2 separate regions of the Homo sapiens genome follow, and region 2 is linked to region 1. Evidence: fine-mapped QTL for protein levels in blood plasma. A gene starts in region 1. The other region holds a variant in brackets. All regions are shown on one strand. Distances are between the middles of the regions.

Region 1 (5,321 bases):
ACTTGGACTCGTCACAGGGCAGGCAGACCAGCGCCCGGGTGCCGGAGCGCGCCAGCAGCAGCAGCAGCCCCAGCAGCGAGACCAGGAGGTGCCCGCAGCCGGCCAACCCCCTGTCCCCCGCCACCAAGTACATCCTCCTGCGCCGCCGCCGCCTCCTCCTCGCAGCCGGGCCGGGAGCGGGGCGGGCGCCCTCCCCTGCGCGGGGCACACGCGCCGCCGCCGCCGCACCAGCAGCCCGCGGTCCTCACCGCCCCTCTCGGGGCCCCCGGGGCGCGCCTCCCCTCGCGGGGCGAGGCCCCCGCCCCTTCTGCGGGCCGCGCCGACCCCGAGCCCACGAGCCTTGGCGCCGGCGGCAGCTTCCCCTCCTCCTCCTCCTCCTCCTCCCGGGAGGGAGGGGGAAAAAAGAAAAAAGTTTCCTCCCGGCAGCTCCGGTTCAACCCAAACTTCTGGCGCGGCGGCGGCGGTGGCTGCTGCGCTCGGCTCCAGCCCGGGCCGGCGGCGCCTCCTCCCTCTCCTCCTCCGAGTCGGCCGGCCCCGCAGCGGCGCAGCCTCCGGGCCGGTCCCCGCCTCCCGAGCTGCCGAGTGGGCGCGGTGGCGCAGCACAAGATCCGCGGCGTCCGCTCCGCGCGCCCCGCTCGCCTCACTCCTGCGCCGCTCCTCCGGGCGCTTGTTTATGGCTGGAGCCTCAGCCGCTCGGGCTGCGCCCTCCCCCATCCTACCTCCTCCCCCAGACCTTCCCCCCACCCCCACGCGCCGCGCGCCGCTCATTGGCTGCCCCCCCTCCCCGGCCCGGCCGGCCCCCTCCGCCTCCCCCTCCCCCTCTCGGGCGGCCGGGCCCTTCCTCCCTCCCTCACACGCCTCCACCTCTTCCCGATCTCCTCCTCCCCGAGCCCGGCGCACCGAGCCGGCCGTGCCACCGAGCTGCGGCTCTGGCCCCGGCGCCGCGGGTGCGCTGCGGATGGGCTTGGGGCGCACCCAGCGAGCAGCGAGAGTCGCGGTGTCCCGGGCGCTCGCTGGCACCGTGGCCGCAGCGGCCGGCCTGGGAGCCAGGAGGGCGAGGCGGCTGCACCTTCGGGGCCAGATTGGAGTTCGAAGAGTGGCGGGTACCCCAGAAGCTCGGGGCCGGGGCGATGGCTGCAGCCTCGGGAGGGTATCGCCGGATCGAACTCCGGGAAAGGGAAGCAAAGGCATGGAACCTCCGCACACTGGATGAGAATCCATCTTCCATTCGAGCTGGGAATAGACTTTGTGAAAGATATTATGTAATGGAGTCTCGGGAACCCTGAGACCTCTCCAGCGAAGCTGAAGTGAATTAATTAAGTGCTTTAAACGGTCTTGGTAAATATTCCGCGGGAGCTGGGGAGGACCGTTGGGATGGCTGTAGCTTGAGTTGAATTTTAACTGTCCTCATTCTGGGTTTTGTCGCTCTGCTTTCTGTGCCAAGGTGCTGTGTTACGGGAGAGAGTGACTGGAAAGTAACAAAGCTGAATCTTTCTCCCTGGAGTAAGGCCGAAGACTGGATTACTACACGCCTAGACGTGACACTACACCCATAGATCTCATGCATCATTAATGCCATATGACATTGCCATTTTCTTTCTCAGTTCACGGACAAAAGTGGTGGGTTTTCATTGTCTTCACTGATTGTCAATGCATTAATAAAGAAGATGTGTGGTACATAGTCTTTGTGATAAATCAGGTAAAGAAGCAACGGAAGTGATGCAAAATGCACGGTGTGGAGATGGTTTCTCTTCAGTGGTTGTCAGAAAAGGTTTTCGTAATGATGGCTCTGTCATTGATGGGATATGAAGTAGTAATCCGCTCCGTAGTGACCTACCATTCACAAGATGGGTACCAGGTGAATAACATTAATTAATTGACAAAAAGTGACTGTGGTCAATGGGGGAAAAAATCGATCCCGTGGCAGGTGTGACGTGGGAATGGCTGGCCCACCCTCTGATCCAAGATGGTCTGGCTGCAGGAAGGTGGCAGCCAAGTGGATTCTGAAAATCGTGACTAATGAACCGAAAGTTAATAGCTGGCAGTGCAAGGAAAGAGGAAACAAAGCTACCTTTGAAATGTTATGTTTGTGGAACAAATTCATACTTACGATAAATATTTTAGTTTAACCACTCTGTCTAATCCTGAACCCAAAAGCCAGAGTTACCAGTGGACTATTCCCCCATGATGGGCATCAGCAAACTAAACATTTCTCCTATCATATTTCTTTGTCCAAGGAGAGGAAGAGGCTCATTAATTATCATTGATTATTATAGGGCCATGAGGAAGATGTTCAACCGTGGAAAAGGGGAGAGAGCATTGCATTTTCTAGACGGGTTTAAAGAGTTGTTGCAATGAAATGATTCCTGTAGTTGGGTGGGAAGTCCGATTAGATGATCTCCAAAGGCCCTCATACCCTGTGGGTCCATAATAAGTGTTAAGTGGCAAAATCGTTTAAAATATGCTAGGTTTTCTATTAGAAAAACCGAAGAGACTGGGCGTGGTGGCTCATGCCTATAATCCCAGCACTTTGGGAGGCCAAGGTGGGCAGATCACTTGAGGTAAGGAATTCGAGACCAGCCTGGCCAACATGGTGAAACATGGTGAAACCCTGTCTCTATCAAAAATACAAAAATTAGCCGGGTGTGGTAGCGCATGCCTGTAATCCCAGCTACTCAGGAGGCTGAGGCAGGAGAATCACTTGAACCCAGGAGGTGAAGGTTGCAGTGAGCCGAGATTGCGTCATTGCACTCCAGCCTGGGCGACAGAGCAAGACTCTGTCTCAAAAACAAACAAACAAAAAAACTGAAGAAAAATAAAACACACATTGTTAAACATTGTTCTTTCTTGTCACCGAACAAGGCACCAGCACTTCAGTGTGGGATTTGCCAACAAACTGTCATCATTGCTCTGTGTTAAAAGGTCCCTCCCACTCTTGCAGAGGAGGTTATCTGTATTTCTGTTCAAATGCAAGTATAAAGACATTAAAATGTAGCAGATAACATTGTAGGACCTGCAGGAAAAGCCAAGGTCAGGTGATGAGAAAAAGGCAGAAGTGAGAAAGCTACTGTGGTTAGGAAAGAAGGAGGTAATAAGCATTGTCAAAGTTTAGCTTCTATTTATTTTTAAGGGGATATATTAAGGATTAAGGAAAGCTACAGATGAGCACAGGCAAAGGATAATTTGGAGATGACTATTCATTGTTCCTGGGACTTCAGAAGTAGAACCACCTGGAAGGTAGATGGACAGATACAACATGAGAAAGGTTGACTTCTCACAGGAATTCAAGTCAGGTTTAGAAAGGACTAGGGAGATTCTTTAAGATGAAGATGATTGTATCAGCTCAAAAAGAAAAAAAAAATCAAGTTACATTACACATGCCCTTTGGCATAAAATTAATAGTCATAGAAGCAATAGAGAAAATAGGATTCCTTGAAGCCAGTGACTAGTGGCGAATGAGAAACCTGCAAGGTCCTGGCAGCTTTTCTGAAACCAGTGTGTGAATCAGGAGCTCAGTTATGAAACAGCTCTTTCTTCTCTGGGATCCAGGAGGGATGATAATGAGGTAGTGAGAAGCTGAGGCAATGATACTGAGGCTCGAATACAAAAGTATTTTCTTATCTTCAAAGACCAGACTATGGTTACAGAAAGAGTTTGGGTGAGCCCAACATGATGACAATCAGGTGTCACGGGTGAAAGTGGACTAGGAAGAATTACCCTGAAATTGAATGGACCCTGAAAGTCATGAACGAATGTTAAGAATTAGAGCCACACATGAAAGGCCTCCCTTTCTGAGAAGCCTTCTTGAGCTTCTTTATCTGTTCTACAGCATTTGTAAGTACCTCTGCTTGTAGCATTTATCATGTTACATTATAGTTATTTAAATAACTCTGAACCCAATTAGCTTGTCAGCTTATTGGAGAGGGCAGGATTTATAAAAATGCATGCATGAATGAGTTGAAAAAGGGAGAGTGAAGAATTACAGTCAAAATGATATTTGAATATTATTGTCTGCAGCCCTTCTCTCTTGGTTTTAGTAAATACCTCAAAATCAGTACTTGAAAGGGATGGTATGGGCAGGAGGGAGTCATCGAAGTTTGGGGTGGGGGTGGTGGGGGGGTGGGGGAGGGGTTGGGGAACAGGTCTGCAACGAACCAGGAATTACGAAGTATTTCTGATGGAGGTCTAGAAGAAGAGATCGTCTGCCCTCTATTGGCCATCCTGGGGATTAATAAATTGTTGAAAATGTCGAAAATCAAAGTGCCCATTTGTTGGCCTAAGCAGAAAGTGGAAATGAGAGGGCAATAGACAGAATGTTAGTATTAGACCCCGCCTTTCCGATACAGTGTCTAGTCCACCTATAGTCACACTCTGTATTTTCTCTTCCTGAAATGAAAAGAAAAATGTAGAAGTTGCCTTTGAGTTTGGCTCACATACTCTTGGAATTGAGTTGCACTTTGTATTTTCTCTTCCTGAAATGAAAAGAAGAATGTAGAAGTTGCCTTTGAGTTTGACTCACATACTCTTGGAATTGAGTTGCACAAGAGAAGAAACCTCATTGTGTTATGAAAACGTTGCATACATATTAGAAAGTGGTACGAATAAACCAGGGTAGCAGGTCTGGCCCGTTTTACCCTCTTAGGCCATCTCTCTGGTCTCCTCAGCTGGGATCACCTATATATGGGTTCTCACTTAATCTAGGCTTGGCACTGCAGTGATATAGACAGACCCTAGTTTGGAGGCTCAACCATCTGGATGTTGGACTCTTAATCTGAAATTGAACTCTATTATCACCACGTAATACCTTATTTTTGCTAAGTGGGTTCTTATTTACTCTGCCTGTGAATGATAGCTGCTGCAGAACTACCACAAGGTTTACAAGACATCTGCACAGAACACAGGTTCTCTTTGATGTTTGGCCTAGGATCCTGACACACACACACACACACACACACTCTCTCTCTCTCTCTCTCTCTCTCTCTCTGTGTACAAGTTTAAACAAGGTATTTATCCTTTCTGAATCTGTCTTCTCTGTAAAACAGAGACAAGAATACCAACCATACAGGGTATCGTGTGGATAAAATGATTGCTCTCCTTTTCTATTGTTATTTTTAGAGTCCTTCTAATTGAGTGTCTCCTCAAGTTTTATGCTTGAGCTGGAATCCCTGCTCTCTGTTATCTTAGCATCCATTGCTGTGCAACATCTGCTGGATCAGATATTTGCTTTTTTTTTTTTCTTTCTTAGGATCTTCTGTTGGCCTTGTTTTGACAGTCTGTCTCATCTTGGGGTTTTAGCCTCTGTGATATTTTCTCAGACTCAT
Region 2 (5,379 bases), 120 kb before region 1:
CGCAGTGGCGTTCACCGTTGACGCACTGGCAGAATGTGCAGTCGTCTTCCCGCCACCGGTCTCCGTGGGCAAGGATCAGGCCATTGGCATAGCAGCCAGCGGGATTATTAAAAGGATACACTGGATCTAAATGAGAACATGAGTTCAGAGTTAGACTGAGCATCTTCTAAATCTTATCTCTGTCAGTACCCAGAGACATTTTTTCCCTGGGTTCTAGTCATCAGCAGTTCTATTCCCACTGTGATCAACAGAAGCGCAGGGTTGCATGAGGAGTCTCTGGGGGTGCATGCAAAAGAAGCTGTCACACTGAATTTATGTCTACTCATCCTGACACAGCAGTCCCAGAGAAGAGGATCTGTAGTCTAAAAACCAATGTGCAGGTGTTATCACTCTGTAAAGTTGGAAAGCTTTGTGGCAAGAGCTGTGGGTTGGTAATTAGAAAACATGACTCCATTTTAGGCTCTGACAATGTCTTCGCAGTTGTAGACATAAATGTTTATCAAACCTCAACTTCCCTAACTGTAAAGCGGAAGCAACAATGCCCTAAGTCAGAGTGATATTGTTACTTCTAAAACTCTATCTCATGTACCTGCACGACCATGTGGGCAACAGTGGTCTTGCTGTGGACTTGTTCATGACAAGGCTAGTCTAGACATACCATGGGTCACTGTGCCTTGGAGGAGCGCTGTGAACTTAGGCCATTTTTTCTCCCATAAGTTGGGAAGCTAAGCTGCAGCCCCAGGTGGGAGACAGAAGTAGCCAAAGCTACTGTAAAAAAAAAAAAGTTTCTGAGGTTACTGACAAGTATATAAATACTGCATATGAAACCCTCTCTTATCCCTCTATTGAGAGCAACCAGATAAATTACTCAATTTTCTTTCTCAGAAATACATAAAAAACTGGCTTCAACAAACAACTACTGCTGTGCTGAGAGAGGAATCCAGACAGTTCATAGAGTTTGGTCATCATTATTCTAAGGACATAGTGGGACATTATAATAAAGTCAGTTAGAAGGTCAGCATTTAAAATAATGCCATCACAGCGTTAGGAAGGCAGTCTGCCAGAGAGGGAGGCGGCCAATGGACCTGAGCAAGAGAAGATTTTTTAAATTCCTGTGTAAAAAGTATTAGAATACATATTTTTCTACGTTGAGCCTGGATCTGAATTCCAGGAAGTGAGACATAACTGGATCCATGCCCAGACAACTCAGTATGATGACTACACAGAGGTTCGTATCTACATTTTTACAGCATCAACTGCTGCACAGTTTCAGAACTATTGCAGACTGGGGGCAGGTAGGGAACAAAACAATTAGAAAGGTTAAAAATTTGAAGTAATTCTTTTTAATTGTCAACATCACCTAAAAAATAAACTACTTTTCTCCTATGTTGGGTAAAATAACCTCTAGTAGGGAAAAGAACTCACTGTTATGAACTATGTTAGGAATGCAATTTTTATACTTTAAACATTTTCAGATCTTCAATATTATGTTGTAAATATTGCTCAAATATCAAAAGGAGAAAATTTTATGAAAATGAGGAAGTATGGAAAGTGGCATGACACTGTGCCCTCCCACTTTGTGTGCAGAGATCAGGCATAAGATTAACACATGCGACTTCAGATTGAAGATCTGGGGCCTGGTTAGGACAGGAAGGCTCACAAGACCTTCCTTTCTGGGGAAACAGTGTTGTGTTGTCAGAAGAACACTATAGACACAGTCAGGCACGGGGTTATTGTTACTGGCTGCAGTGTAAAGTGACTTTACAGGCAAGTGACTTTTCTCTTCTGAACTTCAACATCCTAATCTGTAAAATGTGTGGGTTGCAGGGAGTGATATTCAGAGCAACTGTTTTGAAATGCTTATTGTTTATGAACATCAGTGATGGGAAGATGCAGCCTGTTGAAGGAACATGAACATATTACTTCTTGGAGAGAAAAGGGGAATCCAGACAAAGCAGATTCCTGAGAGTCACACCTGACACCTGGCTGGGCCTTGAGTTGGTGTCACCAGGTGGTGACCTGATACCACGACCCCATGTGAACCACCACATATTTTCAGAGAAGCAGTAGCAGGTCCCTGATCTCCCTGGAGGGTCCTGGGTATTACGACAGTGGCAGAGTTAGTTCCTCTCTGGGCCGGCAGGCTGAGACTGTCAGGGTGAGGCCCACATTATCCTAACTGAGCAATCTGAGGTGAGGAGGTGGTGAGCTCTAATGCCAGGGTGAAGATAAAGCTTTGCCCTAGGACTTGCTGAGGAATTGCTAGAACTGCAGGGGAGGAACGGAAAACAACTCTGGGACATCTCACGTTGCCTGTGGAAAGAGGTGACCCATTGTCTACACCCAGGCATAGCTTCCCTTAGGGAAGTGTTTCCACACACTCTACCTGGCTTTAACATGCTAAAAGACAGACCATGGTGTCTTAAAAAAGGCTAAAAAAGGAACTTCAATATTCCTTTACTTTTGGATGAGACTGAATTAGGACGATTTTGATTTTAGAACTCTATACCATGTATGCTCCTGTTAATCTGTAATTAGCACCTTTTCTTACCTTCACACACTGGGCAGCACTCTCCTTCGGGCACGTAGTACCTCTCGCAGTTTATCTCACCACACTGGGCGGTGAAGCAGATGGCAACGCCCCCTTGGCATCGACAGAACCGACAGTTGTCCATT[C/T]GAAACATGTCTCCATCATAATATTCCACATTGTTAAATACGCAGGCTGGCTTTGTATCTGAAAAGAGTTAAAACAAACAAGGCATATTTGTAGTCATTTTTTAGTTGTGTCCTTTGATGTTTTTCAAACAGCCTCTAGAAAATTTCTAATAGGAGGTTATAAGTTGATGGAAATTTACTCAACTCAATGTAAGTTCATGTAACAGAAAACAATAAAGTGAAGCAAAACAAAATAAAATAAAACACACTGTTATCCAGTTTACACCAAGGAACAGAAATTCCCCCTAGGAAAATCTACACTGACTTCCTTCCATCCCAGACAAAGCTAAACTTTATGACCATGACACTCACATATCTGGTATGTGCTTTAAAGTGATTCTATTTGTTTGGTTAAATCATTGTCTACCTCAAATGAATGATCCTGCCTCCACATTAGGTTTTGTTCTGCTTCAAAAATTTTATTATGGTCTTTTTTGAAGTGGTGATGTTCTGTTCCCCCAGTGCTCTCTCTTAAATTCTTTTTCTCTGTACATGGTATAAACACGTATAATTTTAATAGTGTTTGGCCTTTAACAAAATACTCTCTATATGTATCACCTCACTTAATCCCTATAATGAAGGTCTGACATAGGTATTATTATCCTGAGTTTAAAAGTGAGGAAATCCTAGGTAGTTTACTCAAAGTCACACAGCAAACGACAGAAGCCAAAACAGTAGCTCTTCAACTGAAACCTTGTGCTCCTTCCATTGTGCTTCAGGGTTATGTTCTGCTGAGGACTCATAGTCCCATATTTAGAAGTCTCATCACGATATCAATGATTTTTAAATTTTTCTCTGCCTTGAAACACTCTCCCTACATTCATTCTTTAATTTTAGTTGATTTAAAATAACTCCCACCAAGACAAGAAAACACAACTACAGATCAGTATATTATAAATGTAGACACAAAAATCTTAAAAAAAATTACTAGCAGACCACATCCAGCAACATATAAACAAAATTATACACCATGACCAAGTGAGACTTATTCCAAGAATGCAAGGTTGGTTTAACATCCAAAATATTAATGTTAATACGATATGTCACACAATAAGGAAAAAAAGCAACATGATCATTCGATAGACACAGTTTTTGGCATCTGACAGAATCTAATATTCTTTCATGATAAAAATGCTCAACCAACTAGGAATAGAACGGAACTTCCTCAACTTGATAAATGGCATCCTCAAAAGTCCTACAGCTAACCTCATACTTAATGGCAAAAGTCCAAGTGCTTTCCCCCTAAGATCAGGAACAAGACAATGAGGTGTGTTCTCACCACTTCAATTCGACATAGTAATGAAAATTCTAGCCAGAGCAATTAGGAAAAATAAATAAATTAAAAGCATCCAGATTGGAAAGGAAGAAGTAAAACTATCTCTAATTGCAGATGACATGATCTTGTATGTAAACAGTTTTAAGGGATCCACTAAAAAACTATCAGAATGTATAAACAAGTTCAACAAGGTTGCAGAGTACAATTGCAACTCCCCAAATTGTGTTTGTATACCCTAGCAATGAACAATCAGAAAATGAAGAAAACAATTCCAATCACAATAGCATCAAAAAGTATACAATACTTAGGAATAAATGTAATAACATAAGTACAAACTTGTATTTTGAAAATAACAAAACATTTTCAAAAAACTAAAAAGGCCTAAGTAAACGGGACATCCCGTGTTCATGGATTGAAAGACAACATTGTTTAAATGGAAATATTCCCCAAATTGATCTACATGTTCAATGCAATCTCTATCAAACTCCTAGCTGGCTCTTTTGTAGAAATTGATAAGCTGATCATAAAATTCATATGAAAATGCAAGGGACCCAGAATTGCCAAAACAATCTTAAAAGGGAGAACAAAGTTAGAGAACTCCTACTTCCTAATTTCAAAACATAATACAATGCTATAGTAATCAAGACTATGTGGTACTGCCACAGGGATAGATATATAGTTCAATGGAATTGAGAGTTCAGGAATAAACTATCACATTTACAGGTATTTTGACAAGATGGCCAAGACTCAGTGGGGTTCAAAGTCTTTTTTTTTTTTTTTTTTTGATATAGAGTCTCACTCTGTCACCCAGGCTGGAGTGGAGTGGCGTCATCTGAGCTCACTGCAACCTTTACCTCCTGGGTTCAAGTGATTCTCCTGCCTCAGCCTCCCAAGTATCTGGGACTACAGGTGCATGACACCATGCCCAGCTAATTTTTGTATTTTTAGTAAAGACCATGTTGGCCAGGCTGGTCTTGAACTCCTCTGACCTCAAGTGATCCAACCACCTTGGCCTCCCAAAGTGCTAGGATGACAGGTGTGAGCCACCATGCCAGGCCTGAGGTTGAAAGTCTTTTGCATTATCTACATGCAAAAGAATAAAGAAGAAAACCCTATGCCTCACACCATATACAAAAATTAACTCAAAATGAATCATAGAGTTATGATCTAAATACAACAGCTACACCTACAGTGCTCTTAGAAGGAAGCATAAGAGTTAATCTTTGTGGCCTTTGATTAGGGAGTGGTTTCTTAGATGTGACATTCAAAGCATAAGCAACAAAGGAACAAAACAGATAAACTGGACTTCATCAATTTTGGGACTTAAAAGGACACCATCAAAAAGGTAAAAAGACAACCCTACAGATTGGGAGAAAGTATTTGCAATC

The links. PIP is the chance, under the fine-mapping model, that this variant and not a neighbour inherited with it causes the effect. The UK Biobank Pharma Proteomics Project read protein levels with antibody pairs (Olink). The fine-mapping took linkage between variants from a reference panel, not from the people measured, so its PIPs are less certain.
Region 2: its variant is fine-mapped to the plasma level of the CRIM1 protein (UK Biobank, PIP above 0.99). The variant lies in the coding sequence of CRIM1. If it changes the protein, the assay may bind it differently, which can mimic a change of level.

What each region holds. Positions count from the first base shown.
Region 1 is chr2:36,351,105-36,356,425 of GRCh38, reverse strand. CRIM1 (cysteine rich transmembrane BMP regulator 1) reads right to left here and starts at 648. Exons shown (of 17, transcript NM_016441.3): 1 at 1-648. The coding sequence starts at 133. CRIM1-DT (CRIM1 divergent transcript) reads left to right here and starts at 856. Exons shown (of 2, transcript NR_037631.1): 1 at 856-1,338; 2 at 1,445-1,677.
Region 2 is chr2:36,474,244-36,479,622 of GRCh38, reverse strand. CRIM1 (cysteine rich transmembrane BMP regulator 1) reads right to left here. Exons shown (of 17, transcript NM_016441.3): 6 at 2,552-2,734; 7 at 1-126. Among named protein-coding and RNA genes, the nearest start is that of CRIM1, 120 kb to the right of the region's middle. RefSeq lists a silencer at 2,903-3,197. The variant C/T (reference allele first, on the strand shown) is at 2,677.